Homo sapiens: one gene and its partners. The protein of the gene in region 1 interacts with the protein of each later gene in a pairwise test. Each region holds a gene or a part of one and is shown on either strand. Other genes may lie near its edges. The genes, in order: SPATA46, alpha-crystallin A2 chain, HNRNPH3 and HLCS.

Region 1 (8,075 bases):
TTCAGTGGTGCTATCCTTTCTAGGCCAACTACCTAGGTATGCCATATTCTAAGGGCCTTTGGGTGGCAGGGAGGAAAACCTGTGGGAAGTGAAGTGGAGACTACTCTCTGCGGATGAGCCCTGTGGCCTGCACCACTGCAGGGTGAGGACCTGCCAGGGAACAGCATGACAGCATCCCTGGGACACAGGGCCCAAGCTGGCTGGGCTCCAGATAGACCCACCACACCAGCAGAAGCTTCCAGCCCGCTCCACAGCAAGCAGGGTCATCAACTCCTGATGATTCTCCTAAGTGTGTATCTTGCCACATCATCCACTTTGGCACAATTTGCCTGTCAGGTCCCACATCCTTCTTATTTTCTTTAATCACGTCATCCGCAAACTAGCAAAGAAGATTTGGAAACCAAACCATTTAACTATTTCCCCCCAAACCAGAAAGTACATAGACAACAATGAAACTGTACGAAATGCCCGGGGAAGGCAAATTGCCACCACTTCCCAAATCAGACATTTCCCTGGTGGTCTCCTTATTGGTTTAAAGTGACTTTTCAGAGCAGACATACTCGTTTTTAAAAAGGCAAGCACCAAAAACACCTGTCAAGGTGATTAGTAAATTATAAGCTATTATTATTTTTAAAACACTCTTTGTAATAAACAGAACTCTGGATTATGCACCATTTTGGATTTCCTGTATTTTTTGCTCTCTACCCTTCATAACATAGTCTATAACGCACTGAATTCTTAAGTAATGTAAAGATAGCCTACCATGCACTCCCTTTACCCTTGTCTAAGTCTTTCCAGTAAATACACCTTGTCTTAAAATGGTAAGGTCCTTGAGGGCCATAGCTCCTGAAGTGTTTCTTTATCTTCTACAATGCCCAGCTTAGGGTCTTGCACGATAGTAGGCATTTAATAAGTTTGTTTAATTGAATTTGACTTTTATATGAATTCTTAAAAATTGCATGATGGACTGACATTGTAGGGAAACTGCTCACAAGTCTTTTTCCATTTATAAAAACCACTCAAAACTCCCTCTATGGGAGTGGTCTTCAGGGGCTCTTGAGGTCAGACCCGGATAACTGCCCTTCTATTCAAAGTGAAAGTGGGGCTCTGGCTGGGGGGTCCCTTTATCCCTATGTCTGAGGATGTGCAATGGGTCCCTTTCTTGATGATGACGCTAATGACCCCCACACATTATCTCTCTTGCTTCAGGACTAGAGGCTTGATGGTTCAGAAAATAATGGCAATGGAGGACAGAGAGATGACTGGACCCCAGCCAGGTGGCCCTCCCAACAGTACCCCCCAACATGCACACACCCAAGCAGAGGAGGGCATCTGGGGATGTAAGTCATCCACAAAAAAACAGGATATCTTACCTGTCCGAGAAAGGGGCTCGGAAAGCAGGTGGGAAACAAACAAAAGAAAGACACATTTTACGTAGTGACCAGTCACTTTGAGAGTGTCACCTCCTGCCTGGGCCACCAGCACCAGCATACCTCGGGGGGACACAGCACACAAGACAGGGGACCTGCTACGAGGAGTGGTGTGCACCCTGGAACCGCCAGGCTCCCACAAACTTTTCAGTGACTAAACCAAAACCGGGTCGCATTTTAAAAACTCTACACAGGCACTGAGAGATTCTGCCTCCCATATTTCCCCCCAGTATTTTAAGCTCCCTTTACTTTAAGTCTGAGGTTGCAGTGGGAGAGTCTGAAGTTGGCAGTCGGAGAAATGTGATGGGTCAAGACAGAATGCAATTCCAAGTCCTCGGGGTCCTGTGTGCATCACTCACAAGTATGCTACTGTCCACATGTCAGTCACTGGGTTTTAGCCAGGAAGATGTTCATCCATTCCAGTTTAGAGTCTAAACTAATAACATGGGTAAACCAAGTAGCAGAGAGATTTGCCCAATATCACACAGGTAGCTCATGGCGGAGCAGGGTTAGAAGTCACATAAGCTGATGCCCAGACTCATGAGCTTTCTCTACACCATAATGGACCAAATGAAATTGCTGATACCCCCCAAACTGCCAAAGTATGTGGCTTCAACTTACTTTCCAATACATGCTAATGTTCCAAACCAGGCTATCTGGGAGGAACACGAGGGGAATCATGTTCTCCCATTGTCCTTCGAATGTTTCAGTACCGTGAATAAATACACACAGGAAGACAACTCTGGGCTCTCACGTGCAGAAGCTAACTCACACCTCACTCACACATGCTCGACAGCACTGCAAAACAAGCCCATCACTATTTCCAGAGCGGCCATAGCTCCCCATGCAGCATAAACATACCTGCCATCTAGATCTGCAGCCCTGCTCTGTATCTAGTTGACATGTTGTGATAATCTAGAAAGGGGTGTCTTCAGCTTATCTTCCAAGTGTCACAATCATCTTTCACCTTATTCCACACCTCGTTAGTGCACAAGGTTGTTATAGGACAAGCGAAACGAAGAGGCAACCTTGCCTCTCTGGAGTCCCAGAGTCTCCCCATCAAACTGACTTAAGCAATGAGCAAAATAGTATTGAGTAAGCCACCCATTTGTGCTTTAGTCACTTGCTAAAAAGAGCACCAACCACTGAAAACAATATTTGGCCCCTATTCTTAGGAAATACACATTGAAGTACTTAGGTATAAAAGGACATAGTGTTTATAACTTACCTTCAAATAGTTCACAGAAAAAATTAAGTATATACACATACACATGGGGCAGGGGGCAGGAGGAAGGGGACGGATACAGCAAATGGGGTAAAATGTTAATAGGAAAATCTGGATACAGGGCATAAGGGTGTTCTTTGTATTGATTTTATTTTTTGCAGCTTTTAAGATGGAGTCTCGCTCTGTCACCCAGGCTGCAGTGCAGTGGCGCTATCTCAGCTCACTGCAGCCTCTGTCTCCCAGGTTCAAGCGACTCTCCTGCTTCAGCCTCCCAAGTAGCTGGGATTACAGGCACCCACCACCACGCATGGCTAAATTTTATATTTTGAATAGAGATGGGGTTTCACCATGTTTGTCTAGCTGGTCTTGAACTCCTGACCTCAAATGATCCACCCGCCTTGGCCTCCCAAAGTGCTGGGATTATAGGCCTGAGCCACTGCACCCAGCCTAATTTCTGCAACTTTTACAAATTTGAATTTCCAAAGAAAATGTGAAAAATATATACACCTCAAAAAACAAACTAAAACAAAACAATAAAAATATTTGCTGACAGAGATTAGGCTGATAAAGGAGAAGAAAAGGAAGGAGATTATTCAGACAGGACAGAGGTTTCCAGGGCTGGAGGGCTGGGGGTAGACAGTGTCAACACAGAAAACTGATGATAACAAAGATAAAAGGGGACAAATAGACAGCATCACTACAGTATCTCTACTACATTCTTCTCTCTGGGTATTGTCAATCAGGGCCTGCCACTGGGCAATGGCAAGTCAAATACAATCTTTACACATTTTAATCTTGCTTTCAGTAGACTCCATTCATCTTCCAAAGGGTAACCTAGTTGGTAGTGGAATCATGTGCCTTGTGACATCAACTGTGCTCAGAATGTTTATCCTCTGGACAAACCAGCCAGCCTCTCCAGAGCAGGCGTGTGATCTCTGTACCCCCGCAGTGGTCAGAATATGGAGAACTTCTCACTCCTCAGCATCTCTGGACCTCCAATCTCTTCCTCCGCCCTGAGTGCTTTTCCCGACATTATGTTCTCTCGTGCCACCAGCCTGCCAGGTAAACTTTGGTGCCACTAGGGCCACAAAGATGTGGTTTTTTTTGAAGCTTTTAATTGAGTACCCTACCAGATCATGTTACAGGACCATGATTTAGTGAGAAAGTCAAATTACGCATGGGGAGAAAATAATTTTTCAAAATGCTGCATTTGTGGTAAGTAGTTACTGCTGTGTATTGATTTTTGGTAAGGGAAGAAAGGGGAAAACTTTTTTTTTTTTTTTGAGACAGAGTTTCACTCCTGTCGCTCAGGCTGGAGTGCAATGATGTGATCTCGGCTCACTGCAACCTCTGCCTCCTGGGTTCAAGTGATTCTCCTGCCTCAGTCTCCATTTATCATCAAGTTTTTCCCCCTAGATTGTGCATGAAATCTCAAGGTGGCAGTATGTCTACATAGAGTAGAAACTAGTTTTAGCTCTGTTTTGACAAGTTTGGAGAGGATTTGGAGTTAGCCAAATCAGAGAAGCCTAAGCAGCAGCGTAAACTGATGAGCACATCATGGAATAAAGTTGGACACCCTGAGGACTCCCTGTTCAAAATACGGTCCTTAGACTTGCAACGTCTGCATCGTCTGGGAGCTTGTTAGAAATGCAGAATCTCAGGTTCCCACCCCAGATCCACTGAATCAGCATCTGTGTTATTAACAAGATCCCTAGGGGATCTCTATGCACAGTAAAATGGAGAAGTACTGCTCAGTGGAGTAGGCCTCCTAAGCATCCATTTGTCTACATATATGACATTTATAAATTTGTCCCCCAAACTGAACACAGCTGCTATTCTGGGATTTGAGGCAGGTCAGCTTTTTGTCCAAGTGTTAGCACTCCAGGGTGTGCCGTGCAGTGATGGCCCACGGGAACCCTGACTGTGGGTATGAGATGTTTCAACTGGACAATCCTCAAAGCGGGCATGGAACATTGCTCTGCAGCCTGTGACTCTGGGTCCCAGGATGCTCAGGAGACTGGCAATGCGGAGTGAAGCCATCCGCGTGATGAGATGCAGGAGGGTTAGGTGAGGGGCAGGCCAGGCGGAGAGGTGTCATCTGGGCTACATCATAAATCCCACTTTCCAGAGGATCTTTCTGAGGCCTGAATGAAATGGCCCCATTCAGAATTCCCCAGGATGTCATCCAGAATAGCTCTGCCTGGCTGAGTTTGAGAGGTCACTGTTCTGTTTCAGCGTTGAGATGCCTTGAAGTACAGAGGTTGAGCCCCTAGGTATGCCTGGGGGAGTCCCAGAAAGTGGAATCCCAACCTTGCTCAGCTCACCAGTGTTTCTTCTATAACCCAGACATTGCAAAGACAGCAGTACCCACTGAGGCATCCAGCCCAGCTCAGGCCCTGCCACCCCAGTACCAAAGCATCATTGTCAGGCAAGGGATACAGAACACAGCGCTCTCACCAGGTGAGGACTTCTCTGACTCTGGGCGGGAATGTGTGAGAGGCTAAGGATGAAAAGGGGCTGCTTCCCTAAGGAAGCAGAGGTGTCTGGAAGCTGGACCCCCATGCGCGGTCTTGTCACCTGCAGCCTCCTATCTGGCCCTTCTTCCTTTGGTAGACACCCACAGGCCTGGGGCTCTCGCCTTGCCTCCCCTCTCCTGTCTCTGAAACTGGTGTGCAAGAGCAGTTTCTGGCTGAGTGGGCCGTGGAGGGATCAAGATGAGCAGTGAGGCTGAAAAAAGGGTCACAGCCATGGGTGGCGAAAAGAGGGACTGTGGGAGGCCGCCGGTTTGGCTATCCGCTGGGTCACCTGTCTGTGTCTATCCTTAGAGGAGTCAGTGGACATGGTGTCTCCAGGAGGGGAAGGCCTCGACAAATACCAAGGCTTACCAACTAAAAGCAGCCTCTCCTGCCCCAAGATCCAACGGCCCTTTGTACCCCTAGAAAAAGAATGCAGTGAGAAGGAATGCCCTCGGCTGCTCTTACCACTGTCTTGCGTCTGCTCTCAGAACTGCAATCGTGGTGGGGTGGAGGTAACCGAGGTCATGCCTGATGTTTGCCTTCTTACCTTTCTGCTCCAGCATCCTTGGCTCCACTGCTCCCTGCCAGAGACTCAGACCTGGTCCTTTCCTTTGCAGACTGCAGCTTGGGGGATACCCAGCACGGAGAGAAGCTGAGGCGGAACTGCACTATCTACCGGCCCTGGTTCTCCCCCTACAGCTACTTCGTGTGTGCAGACAAAGAGAGCCAGCTGGAGGCCTATGACTTCCCAGAGGTGCAGCAGGATGAGGGCAAGTGGGACAACTGCCTTTCTGAGGACATGGCTGAGAACATCTGTTCGTCCTCTTCCTCCCCAGAGAACACTTGCCCTCGAGAAGCCACCAAGAAATCCAGGCATGGCCTGGACTCCATCACATCCCAGGACATCCTAATGGCTTCCAGGTGGCACCCAGCACAGCAGAATGGCTACAAGTGCGTGGCCTGCTGCCGCATGTACCCCACCCTGGACTTCCTCAAGAGCCACATCAAGAGGGGCTTCAGGGAGGGCTTCAGCTGCAAGGTGTACTACCGCAAGCTCAAAGCCCTCTGGAGCAAGGAGCAGAAGGCCCGGCTGGGAGACAGGCTCTCCTCCGGCAGCTGCCAGGCCTTCAATAGTCCTGCTGAACACCTTAGGCAAATTGGCGGTGAAGCCTACTTATGTCTCTAGAGAGATGCCAATAAAGTTAGTCACAGCCTTCTGTCCAGTCTGAGGTCACCCCGCACAGCCTGCTGTCCTTCCCAGAACCCGGCTCTCATCACCTTTGGCTAATGGTTGCCTAGCAACACCAGGCACACACCCTCCCCTTTCTCTCTTTTAAAAATAAAGACAATACTTGAAGTTTGGGAAAATCATCTAAGATAGAGGTTCTCAAAGGTGCCCAGCTGGCAGTACCAGCAACCCCTGGGAACTCTCAGGCCCTCCTCAGACCTACTGAATCAGAAACTATGGGTCTGGGGCTGGCGGTCTATGTCCTAACCAGCCCTCCAGGTGACTCTGATGCAGCTCAGCTGTGAGAAGCACTGCTCTAGGATTCTGGCCTCTGCTTGGTCCCTATGTGGTCAGTCCTTGCCCCACCCTGGGAAGAAGGGGCTGGATGCCCTTTCCTATTTGCATGGGGAAGAATCTCTGCAGTTTTAAAGGCTTCTTTGACGGTAGATCTTCTGAGGGGGGAATGTGGAGGAAAATATGCCTCTGAGTATAAGGCAGGTAAGAGGCAGATGGGGCTGAGCTCACCCGGGACTGAGCTCTCAGGCACTACCATCATTCACTTAGAACAGCCATCCAGTGCTGGGGCAGAATAGAATCAGTTTTGACCCAGGAGACGTCTTTTCTTGGCTGCTTTGAGCCAGGTGAAAATAGGCAGGTAAACATGGGAACCTATTGCTTCCTGTTACCAAGTAATGTGTCCAGTGGGCAGCCCTGACTCTGCCTCCATTTCTGAGTGAACCTCCTGGTCCATCTGACCCAGAAAGATGGATAAGCATCAGGGATGCAGCAGAGACATCTATCTTGACTGTAATGTGGTTTTTAAAAAGCACCAAATGCTTGCTGGTCATCCTTTCAGGCCTCATTTACCTCTTGCTTTATCACCCTGATGACTCAGTAGCCCCTCCACTGCAGTGGGCACTGCCTTGCAGGGACCCTGGCACAAACCCCCGCCCTGGTCTTTGCCTCCCTCAGGGCTTGGCCAGCAGGTGGTGTGGAGGGTCCTCCCTCACCTCCCAAAGGCTTTTCCTCCAGAGTCTTATCTGTGGCTTAGCAGAGCTGCTCTGCTTATCAGTGTGCTGCTAAAACCTCATTTGTGGTCGTTCCCCACAGAGTGGGAGGGAGGCTGGGCTCGATCCCCATCGCATCATGTGCTGTGAGACCACTGCGGCCCTGTGCCCTCGAGCCATGCTTCTCACCCCATTCTGTCCCCAACCCCACCCAGCCTGCATCCCAAAGTCCAATTGACTGCCAGGCTCCAGCTGGGCTGGGATCCAGGACAAGGTCACAACCTATCCAGTCCAGTGTGCAGAGGTCTCCAGGCAGCCCTGACATCACTCCCAGGACCCTGTGCCCTGAAAGGGCAGATGAGTGGCTCTGGGCAATCTTTTTAATCCTCACTCCGAGCTACTGTTGTCTCTGTCCTTTGCCAACCCCATGCTCCCTTCTCTATGGCATCTGTACAACAGGCATAGAACATATCACGAGAAGGAAAACAAGCAGGCCAGGGACTGAGCCCAGGTGCCATGGCACGTGCCCATCCCGCCTGCCAGGTGCTCGTGGTTAGTGTCTTCTCCCTAAAGACAGGGCGTTTTTCACATTCCACATTTAATGTTGTATCAATGTAACCCCAGGAATTTTCTCAGTACAGAGCTAAGTTTTAGCAGAGCAGGAAAGAG
Region 2 (7,352 bases), on another chromosome or scaffold:
GCTCGAGGCGTTACGTGGGGATGTTACATCAAGGCATTACATCATTACGAGATGTAACGCTCGAGGCGTTACATCGAGGGGATGATGGCCATGGGGCTGGGCGTCCAGGGTGGGCCGCAGAGGGAAGCTCACCACGTGGTGCTCTCATCTGCCCACAGCCCAGCCCGTCTTCCTGTTGGAGGCATGTGACCCCTGGAGGACAAGCATGAAACGCCATAGGGCTCCCCCAGGTGCTGGAATTATGGCACCTTGCAGCTTCTTCTCCACGAGTTTTAACAAGCATGCGTACTTTTGTAAGTGGTGAGTGTAACGGAGGTTCACAGATGCACTCCGCTTTGGAAACCAGTGCACTCTTGCCCAGGCCCGGTGAGACTCTGACGACGATGTGTCTAACCTCTGTGTCTAACGGGGGTGTGGGCTCTCCCTCCTCTGGCGACCATGAGGACCACCCCGGCAGGACAAGGTGTGCAGAGAACTAGCATGGTCCCTGGCACGTAGCCCCTGCCCAGTGACTGGCAGATGAGAAGCTCCATTGTCGCCCCAGGCGAGTATGGGGCACAGGCGCCTCCTTGGGTTGTCTGCCCTCCCGGGAGCCCCAGGGTGCCCAGGCGGGCCTCAGCTGAGTCCAGGCCTCGGGGACAGTCCGTGCAGCCCCTCCTGGGGCTGGGGGCGGGCACTTGTCCCAGCCACGTTTCTGCTGACTGAGCAGCCTTCTTCATGAGCTCACGCCTTTCCAGAGAAATCCCTTAATGCCTCCATTCTGCTGGTGGCATATATAGGGAGGGCTCGGCCTTGGCTCCACACTGCGCTGCCCAGAGGCCCCGCTGACTCCTGCCAGCCTCCAGGTCCCCGTGGTACCAAAGCTGAACATGGATGTGACCATCCAGCACCCCTGGTTCAAGCGCACCCTGGGGCCCTTCTACCCCAGCCGGCTGTTCGACCAGTTTTTCGGCGAGGGCCTTTTTGAGTATGACCTGCTGCCCTTCCTGTCGTCCACCATCAGCCCCTACTACCGCCAGTCCCTCTTCCGCACCGTGCTGGACTCCGGCATCTCTGAGGTAAGACGTGGCCCGTGGTGCTGGCCTCTCCTCGCTGCTCAGAGGGTGGTGGCCTCGGTGGGTGGAGAGCGATGGACTCTGGTCTTGCTCCGTCAGGCAGGTGGCCTCGTCCCACTTCATCCCCTTGCAGAGGCTGGGCGAGAGCCTGTGTCCCCACTGCAGCCACGTGGTAGAGCTTCCCCTGGCACTGGGGAGAGGGTGGACAAGGGAGCAGCCTGAATCCACCTTTGCTTTCCTCCATCAGCTCATGACCCATGTGTGCTTTGTAAGGCACCAGCCACATACTGGAAACCCCAAGAGCAGCCCATCCAGGCATGCGTGGTGGCGAATGCCAGCTCCCGGGTTCCTCTGGTCTCCTGAGTCCCGGAGACCTGGGAGCAGGTGGGGGTCATAGTCCTGAAAGCCAGAGAGCAGGGCGTTCCTAGCACCTCCTCCAATGAGCTCGGCCTGCCCACGGCTAGCAAAGCTCTTGGCAAGTTTACTTAGGTGCCCTGCCAAGGCTAAAAGGACAGGCAATGGACGCCCCCCCCCCCCACCCAACCACAGGCCTCCTCTCTGAGCCACGGGTGAGCGGTGCAGGTTCTGCTGTTCTGGAGGGCCTGAGTCCCACCCAGCACCTCATAAACAGGGTCCTCCCCAGGGCTGCTGCAGTAGGCATCAATGCCAGGGTGCAAAATGCCTCAGGGAGCCAAGGCTGAGCCAGGGGAGTGAGAAGGAGCATGTGGAAGTGCGTTTTGGAGAGGCAGCTGCGCAGGCTGTCAGCAGGCTCCGGCCGCTTCTATAGACAGCATGACACCAAGGGCAGTGACCTCATTCCACAGGCTGAGTCCAGCCAGCCAGCCAAGCATCACCAGCCAGACGATTGACCCTAACGGACCAACCAACCCGTAACGACCCCTCCTACCATAACCAGTAGCCAGCCAGCCCATAACCAGCCAACTTATCTATAACCAGCCACCTGACCATAGCCAAACAACCAGCCGGCCCACCAGTAGCATTCAGCCCCTCAGCTGGCCCTGAGGGTTTGGAGACAGGTCGAGGGTCATGCCTGTCTGTCCAGGAGACAGTCACAGGCCCCCGAAAGCTCTGCCCCACTTGGTGTGTGGGAGAAGAGGCCGGCAGGTGACCGAAGCATCTCTGTTCTGATAACCGGGACCCGCCCTGTCTCTGCCAACCCCAGCAGGGACGGCACCCTCTGGGCAGCTCCACATGGCACGTTTGGATTTCAGGTTCGATCCGACCGGGACAAGTTCGTCATCTTCCTCGATGTGAAGCACTTCTCCCCGGAGGACCTCACCGTGAAGGTGCAGGACGACTTTGTGGAGATCCACGGAAAGCACAACGAGCGCCAGGTGAGCCCAGGCACTGAGAGGTGGGAGAGGGGGGCGAGTTGGGCGCGAGGACAAGGGGGTCACGGCGGGCACGACCGGGCCTGCACACCTGCACCATGCCTTCAACCCTGGGAGAGGGACGCTCTCCAGGGGACCCCGAATCAGGCCTGGCTTTTCCCCAAGGGAGGGGCCGTGCCCACCTGAGCACAGCCAGCCCCTCCCGGTGACAGAGGTCACCATTCCCGAGCTAATGTGGCTCAGGGATCCAGGTTAGGGTCCCTTCCCGGGCTGCACCCAGCCGTCGCCAGCTCCATCCCTGTCACCTGGATGCCAGGGTGGTCTTAGAAAGAACCCCAGGAAGTGGGAGTGCCCCGGGTGGCCGCCTCCTAGCCAGTGTACATCTTCACATGAACCCTACCTGAGGAAGCCAGTCCCCGACGGCATAGCTGCATCCGCTTGGAATGCTTTACAGGCATTGACACCTTCGCCTCACAGCAGCACTTTGGAACCAGTGTCCTCATTATTCCAGGGCACGGCTGGGGAACAAGGGGGTCCTCAGCCTGCTGGGTCCCACAGCTAGTACCGGGCAGGTGGACGGGAGCTTCTCCCCACAGTCACCCTGATGCCCCGCTCTTGCTCGGCTGGAGGCCTCGGATCTCCGTGGTGTTGAGGGAGCCGGGGCACTGGAGCCCTGGTGACCTGCATCTCCTGGCGGAGCCGGGAAGAGCTCATGGACTGTCACAGATGGACAGTGCCCCGCGGGGGCTGGAGAGCAGAGTGGGGCTGGAAGGTGGAACTCTTAGCCAAAGTCTTGGTTTCTTTTGGCCAGGGTCCTCTTTCAATGGCTGGAGAAGGTGGTGCTGGGGGGTGAACGCTGACCTCCTCATGTGCTGCCCCTCCCTCGCCTGGGCCCGGTAAAGCCCCCACGTAGCCCCAGCCAGCCTGGAACATGCTTCCTGAGCTCCCAGCTCTTGGTCTTTGCACCCAGTGGAGGAGGAGGTCAGCCCAGGGAGCTGAGTCTGCGGTTTAGGGCGTCCAGGGGACGTGGAAGCATGTGGGTCGTCTGGCCACATTAGGTAGGGCTGCAGAGACCTGGGCTAGAGCAGTCCTGCGGGGTCTGGAAGGGGAAGACTGGCTGAGGTGCGGGGCCTGGTCTGGAATGATCCTGCGATTTTGGAGTGAAGCCATGGAGCGGGAAGAGACAACCCCCCGCGGGGAATAGCCCGGCAAGTGGCCACGAGGCCAGGCTGAGGTCCAGAGAAGCAGGGGCATGAATCCATAAATCCCAGGGGGCCTGGCCATGGGATGTGCTGGCTGCACCCGGCCCCTGTGAGAGCCCCCGCAGGCTGGCCCCCTTCTGCAGTCAGTGGGGCTGGGGCAGCTTCTCTGGCATGGGGCGAGGCAGCCGCCTGCACAGTGGCCCCCCTGACTGTGCGCCCCCACCCTCTCCAGGACGACCACGGCTACATTTCCCGTGAGTTCCACCGCCGCTACCGCCTGCCGTCCAACGTGGACCAGTCGGCCCTCTCTTGCTCCCTGTCTGCCGATGGCATGCTGACCTTCTGTGGCCCCAAGATCCAGACTGGCCTGGATGCCACCCACGCCGAGCGAGCCATCCCCGTGTCGCGGGAGGAGAAGCCCACCTCGGCTCCCTCGTCCTAAGCAGGCATTGCCTCGGCTGGCTCCCCTGCAGCCCTGGCCCATCATGGGGGGAGCACCCTGAGGGCGGGGTGTCTGTCTTCCTTTGCTTCCCTTTTTTCCTTTCCACCTTCTCACATGGAATGAGGGTTTGAGAGAGCAGCCAGGAGAGCTTAGGGTCTCAGGGTGTCCCAGACCCCGACACCGGCCAGTGGCGGAAGTGACCGCACCTCACACTCCTTTAGATAGCAGCCTGGCTCCCCTGGGGTGCAGGCGCCTCAACTCTGCTGAGGGTCCAGAAGGAGGGGGTGACCTCCGGCCAGGTGCCTCCTGACACACCTGCAGCCTCCCTCCGCGGCGGGCCCTGCCCACACCTCCTGGGGCGCGTGAGGCCCGTGGGGCCGGGGCTTCTGTGCACCTGGGCTCTCGCGGCCTCTTCTCTCAGACCGTCTTCCTCCAACCCCTCTATGTAGTGCCGCTCTTGGGGACATGGGTCGCCCATGAGAGCGCAGCCCGCGGCAATCAATAAACAGCAGGTGATACAAGCAACCCGCCGTCTGCTGGTGCTGTCTCCATCAGGGGCGCGAGGGGCAGGAGGGCGGCGCCGGGAGGGAGGACAGCGGGGTCTCCTGCTCGCGTTGGACCCGGTGGCCTCGGAACGATGGGGTCGCCTGCGTCCCTTCCTTCTCCTGAGCTCAAGCGCCTCCCTCCACACTGGGCTGGAAGGAGAGGTTTTGGGGGCAGAGCCTCTGATGGGAAAGGGACTGGGGAGCGGTTCCGAGAGCTGGGGGCGGGGAGGGACCTGGAAGGGGCTGCAGGGAATGGAGGGAGGCCGGGCTCCTTTCTCTGTCCGCGCCGGCACCGGGGCGGGACGCCAGCCCTGGCCTCCTTCTGCGGGGCCGTCCGGTTCTCTCGGGGTCTGCTGGGTCGTCCTGTTCTCTCGGGGGTCCTGCTGCCTTCGGGGCTGGGCTTTAAGGGCACTCGTGCTTTTGAGGAGCTGGAACTCGGCAGCTTCCCCTGGGCAACCCATCATGGCCCCGAGCTGGAGGCGGAAGCTCGCTCTGTCCCCTCCCGGGACCAGACACTGGGCGGCCATGCCAGACCCCGCCACGGGGAGGGAGACTCGGCCTGGGGGGCCCTGGCTGCCTGCTGCGCTCACCGAGGGGCATCCGGGGGGCCAGAGGGCACCCAAGGGGAAGCAGACGCCACGGCGGGTGGGCCCTGCCAGCGCCCTCAGCCAAGTAAAGCGCCCTCGACCCCGGAGGCCGAAGGCACCGGGACCCTGAGGCACTGGGACCCCCATGGCACCAGCAGGACGACCACAGGGGCGCAGCCTCCACCCGGGAGAACACAGACACTGACACCACCGGGTTTTCAAAAAGTCAGCAACAGGCATTAGCGTGGGCGGCCATAGTGACGCCCAGTGACATCACGTGCCACGGACACTGAACAGCACACACACCACACACACCACACACTCCACACACACCGCACACTCCACACACTCCACACACACCACACACACCACACACTCCACACACTCCACACACTCCACACTCCACACACTCCACACACACCACACACTCCACACACTCCACACACACCACACACTCCACACTCCACACACTCCACACACACCACACACTCCACACACACCACACACTCCACACCCACCACACACTCCACACACTCCACACACACCACACACTCCACACACTCCACACACACCACACACACCACACACTCCACACACTCCACACACTCCACACACACCACACACTCCACACTCCACACACTCCACACACAACACACACTCCACACACACCACACACTCCACACCCACCACACACACCACACACTCCACACACTCCACACACTCCACACACACCACACACTCCACACACAACGCACACTCCACACACTCCACACACACCACACACACCACACACTCCACACACACCGCACACTCCACACACTCCACACACACCGCACACTCCACACACACCACACACACCACACACACCACACACTCCACACTCCACACACACCACACACTCCACACACACACCACACACCACACACTCCATACACACCACACACTCCACACACTCCACACACTCCACACACACCACACACTCCACACACACCACACACTCCACACTCCACACACCACACACTCCACACACACACCACACACTCCACACACACACCACACGCAGCACAGACACCACACACTCCACACACACCACACACTCCACACACTCCACACACACCGCACACTCCACACACTCCACACACACCGCACACTCCACACACCACACACTCCACACACACACACCACACACTCCACACACAACACACTCCACACACACCACAGACACACACACACCCCTCAACACACCATGCCCTTTGTCTCTCTTTGTATTCCTCTGGCCAGGCCGTGGTGTGACGGGTTCTGAGTCCTGGGAGTGGCTCCCCTAGACTCCCCCCCTCCTCCTCCCTCCAGCAGGACCTGCCCGGCTGTTGTGCCATCGAGTCCCCATTTGTACAGAAGGGGGTGCCCTGTGGTTGGCAACAACATGACCCACTGTGCTTTGGGGCTGCGGCTGGATGTTTTTGAAAATCGGGGTGTCTGGGGCTCCCTGCTCCTCCTGGGTCTGTCCCGGACCAGCTGAGCGGACACCTTTGCTCTGCACAGCCTGGCAGCCATTGCAGGGAGGCGGGCCCACCGCAACATCTGGTAGCTCCGGGTCCCGTCCCACCGGCTGCACAGTGAATGGAGCTGTCACTCACGCCTGCAGCCTTGCTTGACTGCGGGTCCTGCCTGGACCTTGTTAGGGGCTGGAAGGTGACTCCCTGAAAATTATATGGGGTCCTACCCCCAAAGGCTCAGAATGGGACTGTGTTTGGCGGTGGGGGCTTTGATTAAATTGAAGTGATGTCACTGGGGTGGGCCCTGGCCCAGTCTGGCCGGTGTCCTTGTAAGAAGAGGAGATGAGGACACAGACCTACAGAGGGACAACCCCGTGAGGGCACAGGGAGGAGACACTGTCTGCAAGCCAAGGAGAGACGCCCCAGAGGAACCGGCCCTGCTGCCCCTTGACCTTGGACTCCCGGCCTCCAGGACCCGGCAGAAACGATGTCTGCCATTGGAGCCGCAGCTGTGGCGTTGCAGCTGCGGGAACCGACGCATTCAGGCCCAAAGACATAGCCTTTGGCTAGGCCTTGGCAGGGTCTGCAAGGCCCGTGGGTGGTTCACCAGATCCTCGATCAGGCTCCTTGGAGAGTCGCACGGAGCACCAGGGCCAGCCCAGGCAGAACTTCC
Region 3 (3,500 bases), on another chromosome or scaffold:
TTTTTGCTTTCAGTACATCCCACGCCATCCACCTCCACTCATGCCGCCTTGCCCATAGTAACCTCCACTGCCTCCACCACCACGGCCTTAAGAAAAAGATATTAAGAATCACTCAGCAGGAGATATCTGCATAAAATAATAAAAGTAATACCTGCACTTTAAAGTTTGCACTACATATGCGGACTAACACAAACTGAACTAGAGATACTTACCATAACCACCCAAACCATCAGGAGTACCATATCCTCCACTGTAATTGTTCCCCATTCCCATTCTTCCAACTGATCCATAGCCTCCCTGATTATCTTTAAAAAGAAAAAAGAAAAAAAATTGAGACTCATCGATAAGCAGCTAACCCTGCATATTTTAAAAACTTTACATACCCATTCCATCTCTTCCGTAGCCTCCCATTCCAGAACCTCCCATGCCAGAGCCGCCTCCAGGAGTAGAATTCAAGAAGAGTTCAATATATCGATGTTCTTTAAGAAAAAAAGAAAGAGTAACAGGGGAGAAAGGAATGATGGATAAAATTCATCAATACAAGCTTTGTAAAAAAGATCAATTAAGTAATATTAAACAAAGTATGCTTATTAATTACTAGTACAGCGATATATAAAGCCCACAGAAAGCCATTATAGAGGTCAAATGGTTTTAAATCCCAACAACTGCCAAGCGTTACCTACAGATCTTAGAGCCTCTTATTTTATAAATTCACGTTTAGGAAATAAGATTGTGTGCCAAAGACACCACTTACGCATGTTATTTTTATCTTTAGACATGGCAGCTACTGCATCTTCATGTGTCACAAACTCTACATCTGCTTCTCCTGTGGCTCTGCCATCAGCTCCAATATCAATATGAACTCGTATTGGATTTAGTGGTGAGAAGAACTAAATAAAAGGAAACACTTATTTACTTTTCTATTGAGAATATTAAAGTAAATTACCACATACCTTGATTTTTCCTCATCAATTAAAACAAACCCTTCCACTGCCCTGTCAGACTAATAACTTAGTCAACTACAGAGGTTCTGTGAATATCAGAGTATACACTTAGGGATAATGTAAAGAATTTACTGCTTTTAAAATAAGCAGATAGGCAGGGCGCAGTGGCTCACGCCTGTAATCCCAGCTACTCAGAAGGCTGAGACAGAGAATCGCTTGAACGCAGGAGGTGGGAGCTGCAGTAAGCAGAGATCACGCCACTGCACTCCAGCCTCAGAGAGACAGAGTGGGAGACTGTCAAAAAAAAAAAGCACACAAACACACAGAGAGAAATACGGGATATCATGATTTGGAACTATGCGGTTTGAATAAAGCCACCTATTTAAGACTATATGAAATTGTTCCCCAAAAGATATCATTTGGTTCTAATCACAAGTTAGCCAGGTTTTAAACTATCATTAAAAGCAGTTGGAACTCAGGCCAGCTGATTCCCAGTAAGATCTAGAGCACACCATTGCTTTTAAAGCCAGAGTCAGTACTTTTGGCCTGAATGGCCATTGGGTCTCTAATGTAACCACTCAACAGGTAGAGGAATGGTGTGACCGGATTTAGCCCATGGACTGAAGTTTGCTGACCTCCTAACAAATCTGAAACCAACCAGTTTCACATCAGTGACAACAGCAGCATCTATTCCTGTTATTTCCAACTCCTCAGTTTCTAATCACCATCTAGCCTAGAAAGCCAAACCAAATCACTAATATTTATATATTCACTCTTTCAAACCCTAATACAGGTCAGGCGCAGTGGCTCACGCCTGTAATCCCAGCACTTTGGGAGGCCAGGGCAGGCGGATCATGAGGTCAGGACCAGCCCGATCAACATGGTGAAACCCCATCTCTACTAAAAATACAAAAAGTTAGCCAGGAGTGGTGGGGTGTGCCCCTGTAATCCCAGCTATTCAGGAGGCTGAGGCAGAAGAATAACTTGAACCCGGGAGGTGGAGGTTGCAGTGAGCCGAGATCGCGCCACTGCACTCTAGCCTGGGCGACAGAGCAAGACTCTGTCTCAAAAAAGAAAACAAAACAAAAAACGGTACAACAAAAGACACCAGCACAAAATGGTATAGTCATCACCATTCTATGCTGATCAGTCTTTCATTATACTCTTAACTGGACTTCACGAATGTAGCTTTTTACTTGTTTGAATCCTATGTAGGTTGACACACAATGGATACAAAAATATCCATCAGTGATTAGAATTAAAGGTAGATCTAATTAGCCAGGCGTGGTGGCGGGCACCTATAGTTCCAGCTACTCGGGAGGCTGAGGCAGGACAATGGCGTGAACCTGGGAGGCAGAGCTTGCAGTGAGCCGAGATCACACCACTGCACTCAGCCTGGGGGACAGAGCAAGACTCCATCTCAAAAAAAGAATTAAAGGTAGATCTATTTTTATATTCAAGGGATTTTGGTATTAAGCTATAAACATGAGAACATTAAGAATGCTTAAAGATTTAGACACCAGGATAAGTATAAAACCACTAATAGTTATTAAAAATTACTCACATTAGCAATGTCATTTTCAGTTGCACGAAAAGGCAACCCTCTCATATGTACGAAATGACCACCATGAAAACCTGAACTTGCATCACCAGCTCCACCATAGCCATGTCCTCCCATACCTGGAAAACACAATTTGCCAAGATTATAAACTATTACAGATACAAGTAGGGAAGTATACATACATACTATACAAGGTATAAAGCTCTATATAGGAATGCACTGAAATTTGTCTGAATTAACTTTATACAAGTTTCCTATATTACCACTAAGAGCTTGCAAAGCAAATACTAAAATTTACCTATGAATAAAAATGTCTTTAATATTTATTTTACCTCTTCCATCTCTCATTCTGTCATCAAAGCCATCATTCCCATAGCCGTAATTATTATAGCCACCATAGTCATCAAAACCTCCATAACCTGTGTAATTTAAGGAGAAACACATGACTACACACTTTCCAGAGATAAATTTTATAATTTAGTTTACAAAAACATTTTGTGGTAACAGTCTGTGTAACTTGATTGCAAGTTTGCAATTCCCAACTTAAAACCTATGAAAAAAGCAGTCAACGTGATGGAAATTTAAAATCTCAGAAAGTTAATTAAGTTCAGACATGTAAATTAAATTTCATCCTTAGGCAAAAAAAGGTCAAAATATGCCAACATCTTAATTTTAATTTCTGTGTAAGTTTTCTAGGTGCCAATATGTGCATCAGTCAAGTCCCACAGCTAGCCATGGGAATCCGTATTTTCATGAACAGGTTTTAAAACCTAATAGGTACTGAAATTACTGCCATTTCTGTATTTCTTGACAAAGTGTCAGGAACATTAAGAAAATGACAACAGAACCTTTGTTCATTAGATACACATACCACCATCATATCCATCACCTCCTCGTCGCATTCTGTCATACATACTTCCACGCCCAGCTCCATAATAACCCCCTCTTCCTCCTATTGGTCTATCATATGGTCCCGGTCGCTGTCCCAGCAATCT
Region 4 (7,458 bases), on another chromosome or scaffold:
GAACACATAGCATTTGTGACGGAGAGCATTTGGGTACAAAGTGAGAATTTACAGAGATCATCCTCTTCAGAAACAGTGAGTACCATGTTTACTTGTGTCCCATAAGGAACTGATGTGTCTTAGTCAAAACCAAATTTGCTTTTTTTTTTTTTTTCCTGAGACAGAGTCTTGCTCTGTCACCCAGGCTGGAGTGCAGTGGTGTGATCTCGGCTCACTGGGACCTCCGCCTCCTGGGTTCAAGTGATTCTCATGCCTCAGCCTCCAGAGTAGCTAGGACTACAGGCGTGTGCCACCACACCAGGCTAATTTTTGTATTTTTAGTAGAGTCAGGGTTTTGCCATGTTGGCTAGGCTGGTCTTGAACTCCTGACCTCAAGTGATCCACCTGCCTCGGCCTCCCAAAGTGCTGGGATTACAGGTGTGAGCCACCACGCCCGGCCTCAAATTTGTCTTTTTATGAGTGCTCTTTCCTAGCCTTTGTGGCTCCCTTTCTCTTTGGATATTTTGGGTTAAATATATTAGTAAAATTATTTTCACCTGTTTCTTTTTATGTTTTTAATGTGGCTGCTAGAAAAATTTATTGTTATTATTTTTCAGACAGGGTCTTATTGTGTCACCTAGGCTGGAGTACAGTGGTCATTATAGCTCACTGAAGCCTCAAACTCAGGGCTCCAGGGATCCTACCTCCTCAGCCTCCCAAAATACTTGGATTAGAGATGTTAGCCACCACGCCTGGTCACTGCTAGGAAAGTTAAAACCACGTGTGTGGCTTGTATTTGTGGCTCACGTTATATTTTTATTGAGCAGCACTCTCTCTCAGGTCATCTCATCCATTCCTACAATTTCTTGCTTCCTAAATCAACCTGAGTGGCTGGGGTATATCACCACCTACGTCCTAAACGTCTTTCCTTGAGTATTCTGAAAATACTTCAACCTCAGCCACATGTCCAAAATGAGTTGTGTTTGTATTCTTCTGCTTCAAAGAGAGAAAATCCCAAATTAACACGCCAGCCGGCTTTTCCTCGCACCTCCTCCTCGCTTCCGTGAAGTTATGAGTTGTAACAGCACTCCCTAAATTGTTAGCTCCTCTCCTTCATCTCCACTGCTCCTCATTCCATCCTCATGTTCATTATCTTTTGTCTGAGCTGTGAAAATACCCTGTCTCATGTCCCTTCTTTGGGCATTCCTCTTGATGGCCAGAGTTAGTCATTCTGGACCCACATCCAGTTGGGACAGTGTTGCATAAGCTTTTGGTGGATGTCATCCCTCCAGGTGCAGTCCATGCCCTGAGGCTCCTGGAGGTCTGACCCCAGTGTACCCTTGCAGCTTCCTTCCCCTCACTTGTGGGTCCTCACCCGCCATTGTTCCCTGCTATGTAGATCATCCAGTGGGGATTTTGCTGATGCTAGCCATGTTTACTGGATTCCCATTTCATGAAGATTATCTGTAAGATGCTGTATTGAGAGAAGAAGAAAAATGGGGAAGTAAACAAGAAGTAATTGACTGGAATTCAGGGTGAACCAAAATAAGGGGAGGCAGGTGCAGATAGTATAGGATAGCGAGAGACTTTCTGATGGGGGCCCTGGAGCGGGCAGAGCATCAGGCAGATGGGCCTGGAGCAGTGCAGTGTGTTAAGACAGTACGTTCTCTCCTGAAGGTTTGTAATGTTTCGTTTAGCCCTGTAGACACTTATGATAATAATAAGCCATTTATTGAGCCCTTGCTAGGTATTTTATAAACGTTACCCCTAATGTCACAGGATCCTTGGGGTGTCGTTTCACCAGACAGAAACCTCTGTGGCTAGCGGTGCCTTCTGCCTAAGTATTGCTTGTGCCCACTGGTCTTATTCCACCCACTTGGCCTGGCAGGCTGCACTCAGCTCATTCTACCAGCTCAGATTGCACACCTACCAGGGGCAAGCTGGGTGCAGAGCGGCAAGGGGTGTGTGGGTGAGAAGTGCAGGGTCGGGGGGGGGGGGGGTGGGTGGCTCCATGCAAGGCTGTGGCTGGACCAGGTGTACTGAATGAGGCTTTTGCTGTGGGCACCTGTGTCTGGACAAGGGGAACATGGTGGCACCTGGAAGCATGGAGACGCTGGGAACCGCAGAGCCCCAAAGAGGGTGTTTACAGCCTTGGCTTGGGGAGCCCCTAGATCTTGGCTTCTTAAAGGGCCACAGTTCTTCTCTCCTTCTTGTTGCCTGCAATGTAGTGAGTACGGGGACATGTTTCAGCCCTGGTTTGTCTTACAGCTCTTTTAGTACTGCCATTCGGTGGGTCCTGAGTTATTGTCCTGCATCCAGGAAGAATGAGGTATGTGGAGGGTGAGCAAGGCAGAGAGGAACTTCACTGAGTGGCAGAACAGCTCTCAGGAGACCTGAAGTGGGTAGCTCCTTTCTGCAGCTGGTAGTCCCAGCCTCTGTGTGAGTCTGGCTGGGTCTGAGGTTTTCATGGGCTCAGAAGGGAGGAAGCGCGTGCTGATTGGTCCATGGGCAGCCATGGGCGGGCCAGAAAAAGCACTCTAAGTTCTCACTCTGGGCCACAGGCTTCACCTGGAACTGACAGCCAGGTCCCCAGGTTTTGGGCTGGTCTTGGCTTGAAGGCAGGGCGTCACCAGGGACCCGCCCCTTTCTACCTATGAGCCTGTCTGCCTTCTGCTGTCAGTCATGTTGTCCAAGGTGCCCAGGCTGTTTGTGCTGAGGGGTGCCTACAGGCCTGCAACCAGCCGTCCTCAGCCCCTCCTCGGCCTCCCTCCCATCCTCGTGGTCCAGAGTGGCTCCTAAAGTCTAGAGGGGGGCTGAGGTGGCAGGGGGCTGGTGTGTCAGCGCCATCCTGAGCAGCACCCACCTGGCCGGGTTGCGACACCGCCCAGGCTCAGCTTCAATTTTGCTCCAGAATCAGAGCGGGCACAGGGAGCAGGAAGAGGCCAGGCAGCGGGATCAGGCACTTCCAAGCCTGTGGGGAAGCGGGGGCCTCTGGGACCCCTGAGAGTGCAGGGATGCCCAGGTCCGCAGCTGTGGCTGGGAGGCTGCAGTTATGCCTGGGAGCACTGGGCTCCTGCCCTGCCAACTCAGAAGCGGGAAGGGCTCCTGCCTGCTCCCAGCTCCCCCTGGTTCCACAGAGCGCGTATCCCTGGCCGCGCCTACCCTGCTCCAGACTGGCTGCAGCTGTCATCACTAATACTTAACGGCTCTACAAAGTATTATCATTATTATTATTGCCATTTTGAAGATAAGAAAACTTAGGTTATAAGATTAAATGACATTCCTAAAGTGATAGGAATATCATTGCTAAGTGACAGACAAAGTTTTCTTTCTTTTTTTTTTGGAGATGGAGTCTTGCTGTGTTGCCCAGGCTGGAGTGCAGTGGTGCGATCTCAGCTCACTGCAACCTCCACCTCCCGGGTTCAAGCAATTCTCCTGCCTCACCCTCCCAAGTAGCTGGGACTACAGGCGCACGCTGCCACGCCCAGCTAATTGTTTGTATTTTAGCAGAGACCGGGTTTCACCGTGTTGCCCAGGCTGGTCTCGAACTCCTGAGCTCAGGCAATCTGCCTGCCTCAGGCTCCCAAAGTGCTAGGATTACAGGCGTGAGCCACTGTTCCCGGCCTAGACAAGGTTTTAACCAGCTGCTAAGTGAGAGATAAGATTTTAACCAATGCTTCTATCCTTTCTAGTAACTAGAGAACGAATTAATGGTTTTAAAGAGATCTAGATCATTGAGATTCCAAAATAAAGCTTTTATTAACCTAGGTCCAGTCAAACAGTACTTGTGTCTCTTATGTTTGGTAGAAGACGACCAGCTGTTGATACGACGGTTTTGGTGAACTCAGGGCTAATTTTCTTTCTTTCTTTCTTTCTTTTTTTTTTTTTTTTGAGACAGTCTCACTCTGTCGCCCAGGCTGGAGTGCAGTGGCGCGATCTCGGCTCACTGCAAGCTCCGCCTCCCAGGTTGACGCCATCCTCCTGCCTCAGCCACCCGAGTAGCTGGGACTACAGGCACATGCTGCCACATCCGGCTAATTTATTTATTTATTTATTTATTGTATTTTTAGTAGAGACGGTGTTTCACCATGTTAGCCAGGATGGTTTCGATCTCCTGACCTTGGGATCCACCTGCCTCGGCCTCCCAAAGTGCTGGGATTACAGGCGTGAGCCACCGCGCCCGGCCTCTTTTTTTTTTTTTTCGAGACGCAGTCTTGCTCAGTTGCCCAGGCCGAAGTGCAGTGGCGCGATCTCGGCTCACTGCAAGCTCTGCCTCCCGGGTTCATGCCATTCTCCTTCCTCAGCCTCCCGAGTAGCTGGGACTGCAGGCGCGTGCCACAACGCCCAGGTAATTTTTTGTATTTTTAGTGGAGACGGGGTTTCACCATGTTAGTCGGGATGATTTCCTGACCTCGTGATCCGCCTGCCTCTGCCTCCCAAAATGCTGGGATTACAGGCATGAGCCACTGCGCCCAGCCAATTCAGGGCTAATTTTCATATGCAGAAAAGACGATTCATAAACTTTATTTTTATTTTAAAAATGATTTTGAATTTATTGAAAATATAAATTAAATAATCAAGTAGGTCAAATCACATGAAATTGCTAATATCTGGCTTTTCTTTTTGAACTACAAAGAGGCCTTGTCATATGGTAACTGTATTAGGCAGTTCTTGCATTGCTATAAAGAAATACCTGGAGCTGGATAATTTATAAAGAAGAGGTTCTGCGAGCCATACAGGAAGAGTGGTGCCAGCATGTGCTTCTGGTGAGGGCCTTGAGGAACAGTCATGGCAGAAAGTGACAGAGGTGCAGGTGTGTCACATGGCAAGAATGAGAGTGAGACTGAGCTGGGGGAGGTGCCACACATTTTTAAACAACCAGGTCTTGTGAGAACTCACTCACTATAGGGAGGACAGCACCACACTATTCATGAGGGATCTGTTCCCATTACCCAAACACTTCCCCCACAGGCCCCACCTCAACCACTGGGGATTACATTTCAACGTGAGATTTGGAGGGGACAAACTTCCAGATTCTATCAGTAACCAATTCCTTGGGCTTTTTTTTTTTTTTTTTTTGAGACGGAGTCTGGCTCTGTTGTCCAGGCTGGACTGCAGTGGTGCAATCTTGGCTCACTGCAACATCTACCTCCTGGGTTCAAGCGATTCTTCTGCCTCAGCCTCCCAAGTAGCTGGAATTACAGGCACCTGCCACCATACCCGGCTAATTTTTTGTATTTTTAGTAGAGACGGGGTTTTACCATGTTGGCCAGGGTGGGTCTTGAACTCCTGACCTCAGGTGATCTGCCCGCCTCAGCCTCCCGAAGTGCTGTGATACAGCCATGAGCCACCATTCTGGCTCCTTGGACTTTTATTTATTTTTTATTTATTTATTTATTTTTGAGACGGAGTCTCGCTCTGTTGCCTAGGCTAGAGTGCAGTGGCACGATCTCGGCTCACTGCCAACCCTGCCTCCCGGGTTCATGCCATTCTCCTGCCTCAGCCTCCCGAGTAGCTGGGACTACAGGCGCCCACCACCACACCCGGCTAATTTTTTTTGTATGTTTAGTAGAGATGGGGTTTCACCGTGTTAGCCAGAATGGTCTTGATCTCCTGACCTTGTGATTTGCCCACCTCGGCCTCCCAAAGTGCTGGGATTACAAGTGTGAGCCACCACACCTGGCCTACAAACTCAAATATCTTAAAATATTTCATTTCATTTTAGGACTCTAGGTACACAGAATTGGGTTAACCATACTCCTTGTTCCAAATGTACTCTCATCGTTGGTTTATGCATGGATCTCATTCACCTGTGGATTTGAAATAATACAATAAATACCCATGAACTCACCGCTAGAACTACACGTGCCTCCCCACCCCCTGAGTCCATCTACTTGCTCCTGCTCCTTCCTCATGACTCCCCCTACCCCTCCTCCCAGTTTCTTTTTAGATTTTTAAGTTGTCTGGATTAACAGACACCACGTTTTTGAACACTTACATAATTCGTATACATTATAGTTAATGTGTTGCTTCACGACAGATACACATTGTGAGAAATGCGTCCTTAGGTGATTTCATCATGCAAACATCATAGAGTGTACTTATACAAGTCTAGATGCTGTAGCCTACTTTACACCTGGGATTTATGGGGTAGCCTATTGCTCCTAGGCTATAAACCTGTACAGCATGTTACTGCATTGGATACTGTAGGCAGCTGTAACACAGTGGTAAGTATTTGTGTATCTAAACATAGAAAAGGCACAGTAAAGATACAGTATAAAAGATAAAAAACAGTACACCTGTCTAGGGCACTTGCTATGAATGGAGCTTACAGGACTGAAAGTGGCTCAGGGCGAGTCAGTGAGTGAGTGGCGTGTGAATGTGAAAGCCTAGGACACAACAGTCACTACTTTAGACTTTATAAACACTGTACACTTAGGCTACACTGAATTTATAACAGCCTTCTTCTTCGATAATAAATTAATCTTAGCTTACTATCATATTTTTACTTTATAAACTTGATTTTTTAAAATTTTTGATTCTTTCGTAATAACAGCTTAAAACAAACACATTGTACAGCTGTAAAAAATATTTTCTTTCTATCCTTATTCTAAAAGCTTTTTTCTAAGATTTTATATATTTAAAAAAAAATTTTGTTTTTAAAATTTTATTCTTATTTTCATTTATTTATCTCTACAAATTTGTGAACATACAAATTGCTATGTTTCCTAGACTGATCTCCAACTCCTGGCTTCAAGCAGTCCTCTCACCTCAGCCCTCACCAAGCACTGGAATTATAGTTGTGAGCCACCATGTCCAGCCTGTTTCTTACTTTTTAAACTTTTTTTGCTAAAAACTAACGTAGAAACACACACATTAGTCTAGGCTGCCCAGGGTCAGGATCATCAGTATCACTGACTTTCACTGCACATGTGTCCTCCTGGAAGGTCTTCACGGGCAGTAACGTGCATGGAGCAGTGAACTCCTGTGATAACAATGCCTTCCCCCACAGTAGCTCCTGAAGGACCTGCCTCAGGCTGTTACAGTTAACTGTTTTGTTGGGTTTTTTTTGAGACAGAATCTCACTCTGCTGCCCAGGCTAGAGTTCAATGGCACTATCTTGGCTCATTGCAACCTCCGGCCCCAGGTTCCAGCAATTCTCCTGCCTCAGCCTCCCAAGTAGCTGGGATTACAGGTGCCTGCCACCACACCTGGCTAATTTTTATATTTTTAGCAGAGATGAGGTTTCACATGGTGGCCAGACTGGTCTCAAACCCTTGACCTCAAGTGATCCCCCCGCCTCGGCCTCCCAAAGTGCTGGGATTACAGGCATGAGGCACCACACCCAGCTGTTTTTTTTGTTTTGTTTTGTTTTGTTTTGTTTTTTTAATAAGTAGAAGGAGTACACTCTAAAATAATAGAAAACATAGAAAACACATAAACCAGTAACAGTTGTTTATTATCAGGTACTGTGTACTG

What was found.
Region 2: the proteins of SPATA46 (region 1) and alpha-crystallin A2 chain interact in binary tests that used the Homo sapiens proteins (3 or more experiments, as listed by UniProt).
Region 3: the proteins of SPATA46 (region 1) and HNRNPH3 interact in binary tests that used the Homo sapiens proteins (3 or more experiments, as listed by UniProt).
Region 4: the proteins of SPATA46 (region 1) and HLCS interact in binary tests that used the Homo sapiens proteins (3 or more experiments, as listed by UniProt).

Annotation. Positions count from the first base shown.
Region 1 is NC_000001.11:162,372,330-162,380,404, reverse strand, and holds SPATA46 (spermatogenesis-associated protein 46), read left to right. Parts: upstream 1-3,550; 5' UTR 3,551-3,614; coding exon 3,615-3,717; intron 3,718-5,001; coding exon 5,002-5,115; intron 5,116-5,788; coding exon 5,789-6,357; 3' UTR 6,358-7,202; downstream 7,203-8,075. UniProt on the Homo sapiens protein: Plays a role in spermiogenesis and fertilization.
Region 2 is NC_000021.9:6,559,914-6,567,265, forward strand, and holds the end of alpha-crystallin A2 chain, read left to right. Parts: intron 1-158; 5' UTR 159-869; coding exon 870-1,058; intron 1,059-2,006; exon of another isoform or gene 2,007-2,102; coding exon of another isoform or gene 2,103-2,180; intron 2,181-2,287; coding exon 2,288-2,410; intron 2,411-3,841; coding exon 3,842-4,051; 3' UTR 4,052-4,576; downstream 4,577-7,352. UniProt on the Homo sapiens protein: Contributes to the transparency and refractive index of the lens. In its oxidized form (absence of intramolecular disulfide bond), acts as a chaperone, preventing aggregation of various proteins under a wide range of stress conditions.
Region 3 is NC_000010.11:68,338,564-68,342,063, reverse strand, and holds part of HNRNPH3 (heterogeneous nuclear ribonucleoprotein H3), read right to left. Parts: coding exon 3,377-3,500; intron 2,925-3,376; coding exon 2,838-2,924; intron 2,625-2,837; coding exon 2,509-2,624; intron 953-2,508; exon of another isoform or gene 891-952; coding exon 755-890; intron 480-754; coding exon 384-479; intron 306-383; coding exon 213-305; intron 87-212; coding exon 10-86; 3' UTR 1-9.
Region 4 is NC_000021.9:36,954,653-36,962,110, reverse strand, and holds part of HLCS (biotin--protein ligase), read left to right. Parts: coding exon 1-75; intron 76-7,458. UniProt on the Homo sapiens protein: Biotin--protein ligase catalyzing the biotinylation of the 4 biotin-dependent carboxylases acetyl-CoA-carboxylase, pyruvate carboxylase, propionyl-CoA carboxylase, and methylcrotonyl-CoA carboxylase.